Regions from separate parts of the Homo sapiens genome. Here region 1 is linked to region 2. The links come from fine-mapping of genetic effects on gene expression. A gene starts in region 2. The other region holds a variant in brackets. All regions are shown on one strand. Distances are from middle to middle. Region 1 has its middle 29 kb from the start of TREML1. Region 2 holds the start of UNC5CL (unc-5 family C-terminal like).

The links. PIP is the estimated chance that this variant, and not a neighbour inherited with it, causes the effect.
Region 1: its variant is the best candidate, but not a certain one, in a credible set for the expression of UNC5CL in whole blood (TOPMed, PIP 0.89).

The regions. Positions count from the first base shown.
Region 1 is chr6:41,121,063-41,129,603 of GRCh38, forward strand. It overlaps the pseudogene ADCY10P1. Among named protein-coding and RNA genes, the nearest start is that of TREML1, 29 kb to the right of the region's middle. The variant C/T (reference allele first, on the strand shown) is at 3,509.
Region 2 is chr6:41,034,572-41,043,112 of GRCh38, forward strand. It overlaps UNC5CL (unc-5 family C-terminal like), which reads right to left and starts at 4,650. Exons shown (of 9, transcript NM_173561.3): 1 at 4,591-4,650; 2 at 119-564. The coding sequence starts at 503. It overlaps TSPO2 (translocator protein 2), which reads left to right and starts at 7,896. Exons shown (of 4, transcript NM_001010873.3): 1 at 7,896-8,207; 2 at 8,395-8,541. The coding sequence starts at 8,415.

The DNA.
Region 1 (8,541 bases), 86 kb after region 2:
CCAGAGCTGTGATGTAATAGAAGCAAGAGCTGTTATAAGGTGAACAGGAATAGTGATTAGTTGTAAGATACCGATTGGTACAGAGAATGTTGTTAGTTTATAAGAGAAAATTAGAGAACAGGCAGACAGGTGGGGTAAAACACTTTAAACCATGGTACACTCCAGTCATCTTCATCCTTTAGGTTTTTTTTTTTTTTTGACTAAATTATTATATTTTTGTGCCTTTAAAACTACAGTCACTGAGAATGGTGCTTTCCTCAGTCATAGCCTGTTTTCTTTATAGCCAATGCCATGAAATCCATAATGTATAGTATTTCTCCTGCCAACTCTGAGGAAGGCCAGGAACTTTATGTCTGCACAGTCAAGGATGATGTGAACTTGGATACAGTACTTCTCCTACCCTTTTTGAAAGGTAAGTCCCTTGAAGACTTCAAGTGAACCAATTACAGATATCATTGCAATTAGTGATTTGGTGAGTAGTTGAGTATAGGTCTCTCATTATCATTCTGGCTTCATTTCTTCTAAAAAAGAAATCCACCTTCTAGAAATAAGTTCTGGCATTGCCTGAAGAGCTCTTTGAAGACTTGTAATGCTACTTGAGTAAGGTTTTACTTAAGCGAGCTTATTGTTCTCTTTGGGGCTGACTGATGACCTGGAAAAGTTTTCCAATTATTTAATACAAAATAGGTCGTGAGTTTCCCTTTGTGCATATTCTTGTTCCAGAGTAGACAGTAAGCAAAGAAGATGATGTTGCTAAGATTTAAGAAAATCCATGGTGTTAGTGAAGATACAATGTTATGCACATAGCAAGAGTTTAATAAAAAAAGAGTGCAAAGTAGAATGACTGATGCCATAAAGAATAATGAAACTATCAGAATCAGGTAGGCATAGTTGGAGAGGGGATGTTCTTCTTAGAAATGAATTTTTCTTATTTTAATATTTAATTCAAGTGTTTGGTGGGCAAGGTACTAATACTAAGCCTTCTTGAGGAATATTGTAATGAACAGCATACCTTCAAGTAAAGTATGGTCTTGTTGAGAAAATAAGACACACACATGAAACAGCAGTTCAGGACACCATGGTAGTTAAGGGCCAGGGCTCTAGAGTCAGAAAACCCTGGGCACCATGGGCTCCTGCACTAACCAACTATGGAACTTTGAATAAGTTAGTCAACTTCTCACTCATCAGTCAAATGAGGATAATAATAGTCCCTACCTCTTGGGGCTAGTTGAGGATTAAATTAAATAAATTATGGCACATAATAAATATTCCATGACTGTTAGCTATTATATTATAAGCTTTTTACTCTGAAGGTTTTAGGTTCAACTAGACAGTTTACACTGATAGAACTATGATAGACCATACTTAACAATGGCTTTTCTTACTCAGAAGGAAATACAGGATGCTAACAGGACAACAGCAGGTACTTTTCTTCAGTGAGAGTTTTTACAGGAGTTTACATAGCACTCCAGGGGCTATTCTCTGGAACCTCAAGTAATAGCTCAGCTGTGAGGAATGAAACCATGACTCATGGGTGCTTAGAGGCCTCATGGACCAACTGAAGGCCATATCTCTTATAATGGCCCGAACAGGCATCACTTTCAGGCTCTGCAAGAGGCATGACCTTTTACAAGAATTATTATACCCAAGGAAGCCCAAATCTGTGGCTTGCCACCAGTTCATTCAGTTTTCCCAGTCCAAATTCAGTTTCCCAAGCAGAGGTTGTTCTTAGCATAAGCAAAGAAGTTTGGCTAAGTGGAGAAGGGAGGATTGAGGTGGGAGCAGTAGACAGGGGTAGATGAAAAGTTTTCATCTTTATTTAAAAAAAAAACTGTACACATTTTCAACATGATATATTCTAGATTTGTAGAAATCTTGTTCACTGCTGATTGACTGATTGATTGATTTTGGCAGAAATAGCAGTAAGCCAACTGGATCAACTGAGCCCAGAGGAACAGTTGCTGGTCAAGTGTGCTGCAATCATTGGTCACTCCTTCCATATAGATTTGCTGCAGCACCTCCTGCCTGGCTGGGATAAAAATAAGCTACTTCAGGTCTTGAGAGCTCTTGTGGATATACATGTGCTCTGCTGGTCTGACAAGAGCCAAGAGCTTCCTGCTGAGCCCATATTAATGCCTTCCTCTATCGACATCATTGATGGAACCAAAGAGAAGAAGACAAAGTTAGGTAAGGAAGGGCTGTTCCCTTTTTCTCAGGTCTGAACAAAGAGTCCCTGTGGGGGTATCTGTGTTCAGAAAGGCCATCAATATCATATATCAAGGGGTTCTCTCATTCGTTTGTTTAAAGATGGAGTTTTGTTATGTTGCCCAGGCTGTAACTCCTGGGCTCAGTGGGCGCATACCACCACACCCAGTTTGAGGGTCTCTCTCTCAAAGCCTATGGCTAAGAAACAGAGAGAAAATTATCATTTAAACCATGAAAGAGCCATGGATAGTGAAAAAATATCCTGTATTTTCAGACTTGTCTTCATTTCAGGAATTCTAGCGCCTTTTTAACCCAGGTGTTGGTATTTGTGTTTTGATTTTTGGTTCTGAAAATATTGACATAATCTTTTATTGGCTTCTAGGTGCAAAGAATGAGATAAAAGGATAAACCATCCCCAATTTTAGAAACTCACAAGGAAGACAAACACATGTGGCATTGAAACAGACATGAACAAAGCAAGATATAAATAGCTTGCAATCTCGAATTATCCACATGAAAGAATAAGATGGTAGCATGGACTACCCAAAGCACATAGAATTCACAAATACTTTCCCTTTGAGTTTGAAATATGTTTGGGCCCTATATTTGAACAGAGAATTTCCTATGATTTGACATTTGTAATAATTTGAAGTAAAACCTCAATTTAGGAGAAACAATTAAGAAATCAGTGGTAATCCCAGCACTTTGGGAGGCCGAGGCGGGCGGATCACGAGGTCAGGAGATCGAGACCATCCCGGCTAAAACGGTGAAACCCCGTCTCTACTAAAAAATACAAAAAATTAGCCGGGCGTAGTGGCGGGCGCCTGTAGTCCCAGCTACTTGGGAGGCTGAGGCAGGAGAATGGCGTGAACCCGGGAGGCGGAGCTTGCAGTGAGCCGAGATCCCGCCACTGCACTCCAGCCTGGGCGACAGAGCGAGACTCCGTCTCAAAAAAAAAAAAAAGAAATCAGTGGTATAGAAGTACAGGATTTTTTTGTACCACTGATCATTTCTTCTCTGTTGTACTTTATACAAGATATGGTCAGTATCACTCTTAGAATGGTGCAAAATTTTTTATACAAAGGAGGCAGTAATATTAGCTTAGAGTTGTAAATAGAATTTTCTTACACACTAGCAGCCATGTGCTTGGGAGTTTGCCATATTGAAGCACAAAGGATTATAAAGGAAAATCTCACTTAGATTTTCCTAAATTTCAGATGGTGGGTCAGCCTCTCTTCTCAGGCTACAAGAAGAATTATCCCTACCACAAACTGAGGTGTTGGAATTTGGAGTGCCTCTGCTA[C/T]GGGCAGCTGCTTGGGAGCTCTGGCCCAAGGAACAACAGATAGCTCTGCACCTTGAATGTGCCTGCTTTCTCCAAGTTTTGGCCTGCCGCTGTGGGAGCTGCCATGGAGGAGACTTTGTCCCCTTTCATCATTTTGCAGTTTGTTCTACTAAGAATTCCAAGGGGACCTCTCGATTCTGTACTTACAGAGATACTGGCTCAGTGCTAACACAAGTGATCACAGAAAAATTGCAGCTGCCTTCTCCCCAAGGTAAACCCAGGAGGCAGAAAGAATACATGGGTATTCGTGTACTTGGAGTTCTTCATCAAAAAGTTGAAATCAGATTAAAGGAGAAAAGTAGGTAGAAAGAACCACTTATTTATTCCTGAAGTACTAGAGATTAAAAAAAAATGTAATCTCAGAGTTAAAAACTACCTTAGAGATCATATTTGTTTTGATTGGCAATCTTGGGCAAGTTACTTAACCTCAATCAATTGGGGACATAATAATACCAACTTCATGGGCTGGGTGCAGTGGCTTACACCTGTAATCCCAGCATTTTGAGAGGCTTAGGTGGGTGGATCACTTGAGGTCAGGAGATCAAGACCAGCCTGGCCAACATGGTGAAACCCCCTCGCTACTACAAATACAAAAATTAGCCAGGCATGGTGGCAGGCGCCTGTAAACCCAGATACTTGGGGGTCTGAGGCAGGAGAATCGCTTGAGCCTGGGAGCCAGAGGTTGCAGTGAGCCGAGACTGCGCCACTGCACTCCAGCCTAGGTGACAGAGTGAGACTCTGTCTCGAAATAAATAAATTAATTAATAAATAATAATATCAACTTTACTGGGTCATTGTGGGGATTAAATTAGTTAAAATATATAGTGTGCTCTGAACAGTGCCAGACATGTGGTGATTGCTCAATACCCTTTAGCTATTGTTTTGATTATTACTATTATTTTTCAGCTCAGTACACACACATTGAGTCCTTATGTGTATCAGATTCTATACTAAGGAATATGGTGTGAATAAGCCTTGGTCTTTGCACTCTTGAAGCTATCTGTTTTGGGGGTTACTATAGACATATAGATAGAGAATTCTAGTATGGCATGGTAAAAGCAATGAAAATGAGAAGGGGCCATTAACTCAGCCAGGGAAATATGTCAGTGAAGATTCTCCTTTGAAGTAGATCATGTCAGAATTGCATCTAGAGGGATAAGCAGGAGTTAGCTACCTGAAGAAGGTTTTATTAGTTAATAGATATTCACCATATCCTGTTAAACTGCATCCCAGATGAGTTCATTCATCTTTGTTTAGCCTTTTCAGTTAGCTTACATTACAGAACAGCTCATTGTCTCCAGCTGTCAGAAAGTTTCTTCTTTCATCAGGATGTAAGCTGCCTCGTTGTAGTTTCCCCCATTTTTCATAGTTATATTCTCTTCCATACTTGAAGATAGCTATCAAGACCCAACCAAGTCCTCTTTCCCTACTTTGATAAAAGAGGAGTTGGTTTGGTATTGGGGGTGGGGTGGATGGTATGTGGAAAATGATAGATAGTTGTTGGCAAAAGGCTAAAATGAGGGATTTGGTGTATGATACAATTCCTCTTCTAGCTATAGCATCATGACTATGAAGGTGGACCAATGACTTGGAGCAATTAGTCATTGGTTGATGAGCTCTATGTGCATTTGCACCTGTTGTGCTTTCCAAAGTCTGGTATTGTGAAGAAATTGTGCTATTGTTCATATTTCCTGTGTGACTTTTTTGCTTTTAAGAGGTCAGTTTTGGCCAGGTACAGTGGTTCACACCTGTAATCCCAGCACTTTGGGAGGCCAAGGCAGGCAGATAACAAGGTCAGGAAATCGAGACCATTCTGGCTAACACGGTGAAACCCCATCACTACTAAAAATACAAAAAATTAGCCGAGCGTGGTGGCAGGCACCTGTAGTCCCAGCTACTCGGGAGGCTGAGGCAGGAGAATGGTGTGAACCTGGGAGGCAGAGTTTACAGTAAGCCAAGATCGCGCCTCTGCACTCCATCCTGGGCTACAGAGCAAGACTCTGTCTCAAAAAAATTAATAAATAAATAAATAAAAAGAGGTCAGTTTTGTTTATTTATTTATTTATTTATTTTGCTTTGGATTAGACAGCCTGGTCCATCTATAGTAAAAAGGCTCAAGACCTTCTCAGCCCAGCAGAACCTTAAGGAGGCTTCCCAGACCCAAGGCCTTTGTGCATTGCCATTGCAGACCAGGCACTGCCTGATTCCAGAGGGTACTGTTACAGAGGCTATGATATGATGGTGCCTCTTGGAGTTATGTACTGCAGTAGAGCTGCCAATATCCTCAGTTATCTTAGCTGTGATTTAACATTATTATCATCAGCAAGCCAGTCCTTTTACTTAACCCAAATCCTCCCTAAAACAGTCCTCTTAGACTCCTTATCAATCCCACCATCCATGCTGTGAGTTCCAATGGGTAACATCTGAACATCATTCCTAATATTTGCTGTTGTGATCTATTAGAAGGCAGCTTTAGAAGAAGAGTCAAATCTTTAGGATAAAGGCTAATTAAAAGCCTGCTAGGTAAAGCTGGAAAGCTCTCTTGGTCACTGACTAGGGAACTGTGGTATCTTATACTGTCACAATTTTCTTCACTTGGTTTTAGCCTTTACACTTCACTCCGATCTGGTCATGAAATTGATCCATATGTATTCAAGGATTTCCACTATTAGTGATAGCCAGCAAACCAGGATAGACACATTCTTTATTTTTCCTTCATTTTGAAACTACTGAGCACCTCCTTCAAAATCAGAACTAGTTTAAAGGTTTGGGAATGAAGAGAGTTATTATTTGAATCACAAGTAGTTGTGAAGGAATTTACAAACTACCATCCTAATTTTGTGTTGTAAACTGCAGAAGAAAGGTAGTCAGGAATTTAAAATGTCCTCAGTTCATCCAAACATGGAGAATTAATCATATTTTTTTCTCCCTACAGATAGTTTTCAGTTCCAGACAAAACCATCCAGAACTCAGGAGGCCTTCTCAAGTGAATGCTGCAGGTAGACAGAGATGCTGAGGGTGAACATGGAGGGACCAAAAGTGACAGAAAGATGACCATTAAACTGAGCCACTTATGTCACTTGCAGATGAGGAGTGGTGACTCTTGTACTCAGTATTAAGGTTAACAGAGAAGATTTGGAAAGGCAATTTTTGATTCTCTATAGGGAAATTATTTCTTTTTTTTTCTTTCTTTTTTTTTTTTTTTTTTGAGATGGAGTCTCTCTCTGTTGCCCAGGCTGGAGTGCAATGGCATGATCTTGGCTCACTGCAACCTCCGCCTCCCGGATTCAAGTGATTCCCCTGCCTCAGCCTCCTGAGTAGCTGGGATTACAGGCATGTGCCACCACACTTTGCTAATTTTTGTATTTTTAGTAGAGATGGGGTTTCACCGTGTTAGCTAGGATGGTCTCCATCTCCTGACCTCATGATCAGCCCACCTCAGCCTCCCAAAGTGCTGGGATTGCAGGCATGAGCCACCACACCCGGCGGGAAATTATTTCTTTTTATTTTATTTTATTTTATTTTATTTTATTATTATTGTACTTTAAGTTTTAGGGTACACGTGCACAATGTGCAGGTTAGTTACATATGTATACATGTGCCATGCTGGCGTGCTGCACCCATTAACTCGTCATTTAGCATTAGGTATATCTCCTAAAGCTATCCCTCCCCCCTCCCCCCTCCCCCCACCCCACAACAGTCCCCAGAGTGTGATGTTCCCCTTCCTGTGTCCATGTGTTCTCATTGTTCAATTCCCACCTATAAGTGAGAATATGCGGTGTTTGGTTTTTTGTTCTTGCAGTAGTCTACTGAGAATGATGATTTCCAATTTCATCCATGTCCCTACAAAGGACATTAACTCATCATTTTTATGGCTGCATAGTATTCCATGGTGTATATGTGCCACATTTTCTTTTTTTTTTTTTATTTTTTTTTATTTTTTTATTTTTTTTAATTTTTTTTTTTATTATACTCTAAGTTTTAGTGTACATGTGCACATTGTGCAGGTTAGTTACATATGTATACATGTGCCATGCTGGTGCGCTGCACCCACTAACGTGTCATCTAGCATTAGGTATATCTCCCAATGCTATCCCTCCCCCCTCCCCCGACCCCACCACAGTCCCCAGAGTGTGATATTCCCCTTCCTGTGTCCAAGTGATCTCATTGTTCAATTCCCACCTATGAGTGAGAATATGCGGTGTTTGGTTTTTTGTTCTTGCGATAGTTTACTGAGAATGATGGTTTCCAATTTCATCCATGTCCCTACAAAGGACATGAACTCATCATTTTTTATGGCTGCATAGTATTCCATGGTGTATATGTGCCACATTTTCTTAATCCAGTCTATCATTGTTGGACATTTGGGTTAGTTCCAAGTCTTTGCTATTGTGAATAGTGCCACAATAAACATACATGTGCATGTGTCTTTATAGCAGCATGATTTATAGTCCTTTGGGTATATACCCAGTAATGGGATGGCTGGGTCAAATGGTATTTCTAGTTCTAGATCCCTGAGGAATCGCCACACTGACTTCCACAATGGTTGAACTAGTTTACAGTCCCACCAACAGTGTAAAATGTTCCTATTTCTCCACATCCTCTCCAGCACCTGTTGTTTCCTGACTTTTTAATGATTGCCATTCTAACTGGTGTGAGATGGTATCTCATTGTGGTTTTGATTTGCATTTCTCTGATGGCCAGTGATGGTAAGCATTTTTTCATGTGTTTTTTGGCTGCATAAATATCTTCTTTTGAGAAGTGTCTGTTCATGTCCTTCGCCCACTTTTTGATGGGGTTGTTTGCTTTTTTTCTTGTAAATTTGTTTGAGTTCATTGTAGATTCTGGGTATTAGCCCTTTGTCAGATAAGTAGGTTGCGAAAATTTTCTCCCATTTTGTAGGTTGCCTGTTCATTCTGATGGTAGTTTCTTTTGCTGTGCAGAAGCTCTTTAGTTTAATTAGATCCCATTTGTCAGTTTTGGCTTTTGTTGCC
Region 2 (8,541 bases):
CAAAATATAAACAATTATCAGAAGTAAAAGGTGTCTATGAACATTGCTCCCTCAGATGTGGTGACCTAATGTACAGTCTGACCAACTGTATGCGGAGATGAGAGCCAGGAGCTGTTACCTGGTGGGATGAGCAAGGAGATGCCTGTATCCTGGAGCATCAGGCAACCGCCGCGGTGATCCACCTCTCGAGCCGAAAACACCAACAGTTTGTGCATCAACTGGCGGACCATGGTCTGGCCTTGAGTGGGTGTGTGTAGCTCCTGGTAGAAGGCAACCATCTCTGGCAGTGTGGCTGGCAGGTGCTGCCTTGAGACCTCATTTTCTAGTTGGGGGGTAGGCTGGGACACTGGTTCCTCTTGACCATTCAGTGTCCAGCAGGCCCCCAGCAGCCTTCTAGGGCAGTGCCATCGAAGGCATTGGGCCAGAAGGAGGACACTTGCCACTGGGACCCCCACCAGCAGTAGGAACTGGGAGGGTTGGAATGAACTCTCCTGGGGGCACATTCGCCTGGTTACTCAATGCCGCTGGCTCTCCTTCACCCCTGTGCCAGCCAAAGCCAAAGGCCTGGTGGGGAAGAAGGGGTCAGTGTCAGGGTAAGCCCTTTTAAGTTGTGGAGGTCAAGGCTTGGCTTACACATAGCTGCAAGTTGTCTTCATTCCAGCGCACACTGCACACTTTAGTCACACCAATTCTTTTAACCTGTCTCTCTTACTCGAGAACCTACCCTGGCTCCCCGTGACCTAATACATCAAGGTAAACTGTTCTGAAGCAGAGTGAGCTTGGGTTTACAGTTAGAGAACATGAGTTCAAATGTCACCTTGGTCACTGTGGCTGGGTAAACTTATCATATTGATGTAAGGCAGGAGAGCCCCAAAATTGGGGCTTAGTTTGGGAGGGTTTGTGGCTTCACCTAGGCAAGAATTCAAGGGTGAGCCAGTGGTGTCAGACAGCAACTTTCACTAAAGTGGCAGAGTATAGCAGCAGCAGAGGTATGCTCCTTACAGAGCAGAGCTAACCCTAGGCAGTGTGCCCAGGGTAGCAGCTCTGGGGCATTTCTGCCATCATATTTATGTCCACTTTTAATTACATGCAGTAAGGGGTGGGTTATTCAGAAATTTCTAGAAAAAGGAGTGGTAGCTTCGGGTCACTGCCATGGAAAGGGGCAGTAACTTCCAGGCATCGCCATGGCAGTGGTAAACTGTCATGGCACTGGTGGGCATGTCTTATGGAGAGGTGCTTTTGGTGCCTTTTCCCTGTTTCAGCCAGTTTTCTATCTGGCCTGGAATCAAATCCCACCTCCTGCCTCAATACTGCTTAATGTACCTCAGTTTCCTCATCTGTCCAAATATCTACCTTGATCTACAAGTGCTGATACAAAAAAATCTATAAGTGGAAAAAGCAAGTCGCAGAGAGATAAAATATTCTGAGCTCATTAATGTGAAAAACAAAACTGCATATAAATAGATACATATTTATGGGTGCATATATGGAAATGTAAAGGTATAGAGAAAGGTCTGGAGCAGTGGTGTACAATAAAAATGTAATGTGAACTACACATGTAATTTTAAATTTCCTGATGGCCACATTAAAAAGAACAGGAGAAATTAATACATTTTATTTAACCCAATATATTCAAAATGTTATTTCAACAGGTAATCGATATAAAATTATGAGATATTTTTACTTTCTTCCTTCATACCCAGTCTTTGAAATCCATGTGTAATTTATATGAACAGAACAGCTCACTTGGGACTGGCTGTATTTCAAGTGCCCAGTAGCCACGTGTACTAATGAATCCGGTCTTAGACTGTGCAGGTCTGGAAGGACACACCCCCAAACTATTCCCATGAGTCACAACAAATTGAGAAGGTGGAAGGTGTGAATAAAAACTTTGTATTTTTTTAAATCCTTTTCTCTGTACTTTGAATTTTTCACATCAAGCATGTAGTTTGTATTAACTTTGTAATTCTTTTCTGAAGCTATTAAAAGTGGGGAAAAAGTGCCTCTTTGTGTAATGGTGAGGATGGCATAAGGTCATGTGAAAAGTATTTGTAGATGAGAAAGCACTGTCCAAATGTATGTGTTTCTTTATGCCCCTCCTTCTGCCAGAAAGGCCTGAAGGTAGCTCACAGGGATAGGCAACATACAACAAGAACAACAAAAGCTAAAAGTGGAAGCAAAAAAAAAAAAAAATGAAGAAGACAAAACACAAAGATGCAGCCCTACAGTGAAGCTGGAATGAGGCAGGGCAAAAGCATACACTCACCTCCTGCTCACCTGGCTACCCAGCCAGGCCACAGGCTGAGACTTCCCAGTAGCTCTTCCTGAGGCCCTCCAGAACCCACCTCCGCCTCCTCCTACTTCCCCTCTTCCAGCCCCTACAATTTCCAACACGCCTGCCCTGTAGCCTGCCCAGGCTCCCCACACCTGCTTAATTCTAGCCTCTGGCTTTTGCTCATGCTGTTTTCTGTTTCTCCACTCACTTGCTCTCCCCACTTGTTTCCTCTCCCTACGTGGATCCTCCCATTCAATAGTGCCTCCCGCTGGTGCACCGGCCTTTGACAGCCTCCAGCTCGCGAAATCTCTCTCCACAGCCATCCCACCATACTGAGTCACTCTTGATTATGTGCTGTCATGTGTGATTTTCCCACTCAAATGAACATTTTCTAAGCACCGGCTGTGTATCGGACACTGTGGGAAGTTCAATCCTGCCAAAGATGACGTCTTATTCCGCTCTCAAGGAGCTTCTGCAGGAATGGAATTCATTGGCTTGGTAGCTGAGTTCTGTGAGGCACAACGTCCTCCTTCAGAGCCCTGGGAGGCCCCTCTGGTTGACTCACTAGAGGCTGCACTGGAAGAGCTTCCAGTATCCAGTCCTCCCCACGCCCTTCACTTGCACTACCCACCTGGAACTGAGGCTTGGCCCACCTTCTTCCTTCCAACCTCAGGACCCATGAAAACTGAAGCCCCTTCCTAGTGCCTCTTAGACCAGGGCAGAACCTCCACTGTATCCTCAGGATTGAAGACTGGGGCAGTACCTGTTTCTCCCATGTCCTCACTGAAAGTGTGAATAAGAAGCGGGGGTTGGCATTGTTCTCTTTGCCTAAAGAGCCAACCCAGCAGACAATGCACCAGCCTTTTTCAACCAGGCATCCTGGAGGGCACACAGGTGAATCAGTGAATTGGCAGTGTCCCAAAGCTGATGGGAAGGGGGTTGGAGCAGCAAGCTACCGTTGATGTCCCATCATTTCTTTTGGTTCTTTCACATTAGTAATAATTATAATTCCAACTGTAATAACAATAGCTAACATTCGCAGAGCTTTACTCAATGCCACTGTGTTAAAGCACTCTCCATGGCTTGTCTCATCTCATCCTCACAGCAGCCTTAGGAGCGAGGTGTTATTTTTATCTCCATTTCACAGATAAGGAATCCGAGCTTTCTCCCCACAGTGAAGATGGATAGGGAATTACTAAACAACTGAAGACAGGCAGGAAGGAGGAGCAAAGACGAACAAGGACTTCCAGAGATACCCCCTTTCTCTCTCCACCCCTTCTTTTCCCCAAGTATCTTCCTTTCCTTCTCTAGAAGAAATAAAGTTGGAAGAGAAAGAAGCAAAAATGAAGTAAAGACAAATAGAAGGACCTAAATTTACATCCTCAGTTATGTGGTAATACCCACCCCACTACACCACACCCCCACCTACCAAGGTACCAGTGGCAGGGGATGGAATTGCTAAAGGGATGAAAGGAGGGGCCCCAGCTCGCTTACACAGCAGTAACCTTCCTGGGGCCACCAAAGACCAGAGTCCAGATCCCCAGTGAGGTGCACCTCACTGGGTGGTGCAGTAGAGTCCCCTGGCTCAACCTCCGACCCTGGAGAAGTTGGCATGCACCACTCCCAAAGCCCCACTGGGCCTCTCCCAGGGTGACTGCTCTTCCAGGCTGCCCTGGCCCTCACTGCATCCTCCCTCTGGCTCCAGAATGGGGAAAGGTCCGGAGTCTTGCTGAATGGCAACTATAGCACTGCAGCCATTCGAGTGTGACTTGGGGCATCCCAACCCCATGCCTGGACTCCTCATTACCCACTCCTCCAGTCTGTCTTGCTCCAGACCCCAGATCACCCTGGGTAGCGGGTCCCCGAAACGAGAGTCCTTTAGAATGCTGCCATCACCTGTCCCTAGGCAGTTGCATCCTCCAGCACAAAGATCCAAACTCCTGCTGCAAAGTTCTGCTCATACCCTTTAAGAAAACTCTCAACCTTTCCTCCACCTCACTGGTTCTCCCTGTGCCTCCCCAACACCTGATAGATGTCCAGTTACTGCAGAACATAACAAGTACTGGGATGGATGGTCCAAACCCAAGTCATGAATGGCATTTGTTAGTATAGTAGACATTTCCGCAGGACACAGAATCATCCCAGTGGTCCTCATACCCATTGGCCAAGTCCCATTTTCCTCCCCTCCTCCAGCAGAGGGTCCCTACACTCCAGCAGGCAGGCTAAGCTGGCCTGGCTCCTCCCCCGAAGCTCCAGGTAACCCCATCACAATGCCCATCCCCTCTCCAGCTGCCCCAAGGGGGTGCTCAACTTACCGTCTAGGAGCTCTTAGAGGCTGCTGGCTGGTCCAGTTCCTTCTCCGAGAAACAAGGGTCAGCCAGATTCAGTCGGCAGGCCAGCAGACAAGTGGAGGTGGGCGGGGAATCCAGGCAGGAGTGGCCTGGCATTTCCTGGCAGAGCCCTGCCTCCCAGCTGTCTAAAGAGGGGTGAGGGAGAGTGTCCCTGTCTATTGGCAAAGTCCAGCCCAGGTAAGGGATTAGCTGAGGATCCCAGAAGTCAGTGAACTTTCCAGTCTAGGTCTGGAAGGAAGGAGGGAGGCAGGGAGACAACCTGGGTGTAGGTGCTGCACCTTGAAACCCCTCCTTACAGTGCCCTCTGCTGGTGAGTGGCTGTCCCCAGCCAGAGGCTATTATTAAAATAGCAGATAGGAGGAGGAGGGAACCTTCATCTGAGTTTCTTAAACTATAATGTGCACAACAGTCACCTGGGAGATCTTGTTAAAATGCAGGCTCTGATTCTGTAGGTCTAGTATGGGGCCTGAGATTCTGCAGCTCAAAGAAGCTCCCAGCTGATGCCAATGCAACCGGTCCAAGGAGCTTAGAGAGCATCTAGTTCCACCCGCTCCCCACACAGAGAAGACAGTGGAGCCACTGAGACGGTTAATGACTCACCAGTTGCTGGTGGACCTGAGATGTACCCATATTTTTCCTTACACAAGGTGCTTTCTACTTCCCCCACCCAAAGTTGGCAGAGACACTGCCGGTTGGGAGACAACTGAACTTTGGGGCCATTTGCCATTCTGAGTTCTTAAAACTCTGCCTAGGAGCGGTGGCACCACAAGAATGAAAACTCCTTGTGGAACTTTTCCCATGTTTTCGGCTGTCTCCTCAGCTCCTGGTACAGCCTGATAGATAGAAGGTGTTCAATAAACATGTCTTGAATGAATGAGTGAAGCAGTTGAGAGGGAAAAGGATGCATTTTGGCTCCAACTGGCCAACACTGAGCCCAGGTGAGCCACACGTTGGGTATGTAATATTGGGCAAGCTACTTAACTCCTCTGAACCTCAATTCCCTTGTCTGTCAAATGCAGTTAAGAATATCTACCTTGTGTGAGATAATAATTGTCATTATTGAGCTAATAAATGTCAAATGCCCACCACAGAATGGGTGGTCAATAGATGGTAACCGTTGTCACCAGGGTCTGGCCTCCTGCAGTTGAGGAGGCATGGTGAACGCCCCCCCAGGCCCCTAGTTATCATCTCCCATAGAAAATAAGTAACTTCCTCTGCTTTTGTCTCAGTTAATAATTCTCTAGCCTCTTGTCTCTGACTGCAATGCCCTCCCCTCTGCTTCCTTCCCTGGTGGAGGTGAGAGGGTGGAATAAACCTCCCAGGGGAGCCCAGTACCCCAAAGTGCAGAGATGGTAGAGAGCGGGCAACCTGGGAAGCAGACCTCATGCCTAAAGACAAGCCAGGAAGGGGTGCTCAGAACTTTGATAGGGAATGAAAGGAGTGGGGTAGGGGTGTTTGTCTTTGTTGAACAAAGCTCTGTCTGAGTCACACAGGAGGCTGGACTTTGCCAACAGACAGGGACACTCTCCCCTACCCCTCTTTAGGGCGGCTGGGAGGCAGGACTTTCTGCCAGGAAGCGCCAGGTCACTCCTCCTTGACTCCCCACCCACCTCCACTTGTCAGCTGCCTTCTCCTCTGAGTCATAAAGTCCTAGGGGTTTGTGAAAGATCTGTCAAGCTAGGGTTCTAAGCCAGGAAGGTCATGCCAACCAGGAGGCTATAACCAGGGGCTGTGTTCATGGATTATGAACTCACTTCCCAAGCTAGTTCTTGCCACTCTTGGGGACAATCCCAATTATAAGGAGGCTCTGAAGAAATGTGAAGGCTCCTACCACTCACTCCCATGGCCACAGAGCTGGTTCATGGGATGCAAAGACCACAGGCATCAACAGCATTATAACTGGGGGCTGAGCTGTCACAGGAGGGCCAGTGTCAAACCCTCACCACAAGCCCTCAAACATTCCATCAAGGGGTAGCCTCCAGAGGCCAGGCACCAAGGAGGGTCTGGCAGACCAGAGGGGCTCCTCCTGAGAGGAACTCTTTGGGGCCATGAAACAGCAACTTGGACTTCCCAGCCAGTGTCACCACCCTTCTCATCTGAGAAAGGCAGATCAGCAGGGAGCACCACTCCACCCTCCTCCCAGCCCCACCCTCCTCCCAGCCCCACCCTCCTCTGCCTTCCACACATCATATGTCATCAGGCCCCCCGCCTGGGAGGTGTGCTGCCAGAGGTAAGGGGAGCACAGGCCTAGGAACCAGGAGGCACTGGGAGAGGCAGGTGTCAGGAGAAAAGAGGATGGGGGCAGGGAGGGGCAGGGAGGGGGCCTCCACCACTGGACAGAAATGTAGAAAAACAGGAAGGCAGAAGATGAGCAAACGGACAGTCAGGAGCACAGAAAGACAAGTAGAAATATGCACAGGTGGGCATGCTGCTCAGCTCTGTCCCAGAACCTCCAGGACCAGTGTCCCTGACCCTTGACAGAAAAGGATGGATTAGGGCCAGGCACAGTGGCTCATGCCTGTAATCCCAGCACTTTGGGAGGCCAAGGCGGGTGGATCACCTGAGGTCAGGAGTTCGAGACCAGCCTGACCAACATGGCAAAACCCCATCTCTACTAAAAATACAAAATTAGCCGGGCATGGTGGCGCACGCCTGTAATCCCAGCTACTAGGGAGGCTGAGACAGGAGAATCACTTGAACTAGGGAGGCAGAGGTTGCAGTGAGCCGAGATTGCACCACTGCACTCCAGCCTGGACAACAAGAGTGAAACTCTGTATGAAAAGAAAAAAAAAAAAAGGATGGATTAGATAGTCAGTCCAGAATACTGAAAATAATCAGATTGTTTTCTCTCCTTCAAATCTGGTTAATCATGGGGGGAGGCTGAAATATCATGAACAAATGAGAAGAATGATATTTGTGGGGCCTTGGTGGGGCCTTGGCTGGAGGAGGGTCTGTACATTGTCCCACATGCAAATGACATGCAAAGCAACATGCCACCTTGGCAGCTTTTTAATCAAAGACCAGGCAGTTGTTTCCTTGAAAAGTCAGGCCACAAGAAACCTGGATGCTTGTGCTTACATCCTGACACTCTGGGAATGGAAAGATGGAGCAGGAAGCTCATACCCCATGGCTCCAGGGGTAGAAGAGAGCTAAAAGTTCAGAAAAAGGAATCCACGGTGTCAACAGGCCAAGTTTGAATTTGGGCAGGAGATCAGCCTGGGTGGGCCCCATGAGTGTGCCAGTCTGATATGGTGAGATAAGCCTGGGACAGATGTGCTGCCGCATTCGTGACTAGAAAAGAGTCCCCAGGAATTTCTGGCTCCTGCCTTCAGATTGTGAACTTTCCAGGTTGGTAGATCAGCTTAGGTAGAACAGTTCTCGGTGAGGGCCAGCTACATACCTGGCTAAGCGCTGCCCACTGCAGAAAAGCTCATCACCCGGGACCTGATCTCCAGGACTCAGAAGCACTTGGAGGAAGGCCTATTCACTTAGAAGCAGTTACCAGTGCTGGGCAGTGTCCTCCAAGTGCCAGAGGAGTGCTGTGGAGAAAAGAAGTCCATGGAAGCCAGGAGATGGGCAAGGTGTGGCCTGGGGTTGGAGAGAGCTCAGAGGTACAGGACTGGAGCTGGGCCAGGGAGAGAGGAAGGACCTCCGTGAGTAGACCTTCTCTGAGGGGCTCAGGCCAGGAAATGAGTCAGGTTAGGAGGCAGAGACAGACGAGGAGCCGCAGGGGAAGGCTCATCACTAGCATGTTCTCTGCCTCCCCAGATTTTGCCTCTTCAAGGTGAATGCGGCTTCAAGGGGCTATCTTTGTGCTCCTGCCCCACCTGGGGCCCATCCTGGTCTGGCTGTTCACTCGTGATCACATGTCTGGTTGGTGTGAGGGCCCGAGGATGCTGTCCTGGTGCCCATTCT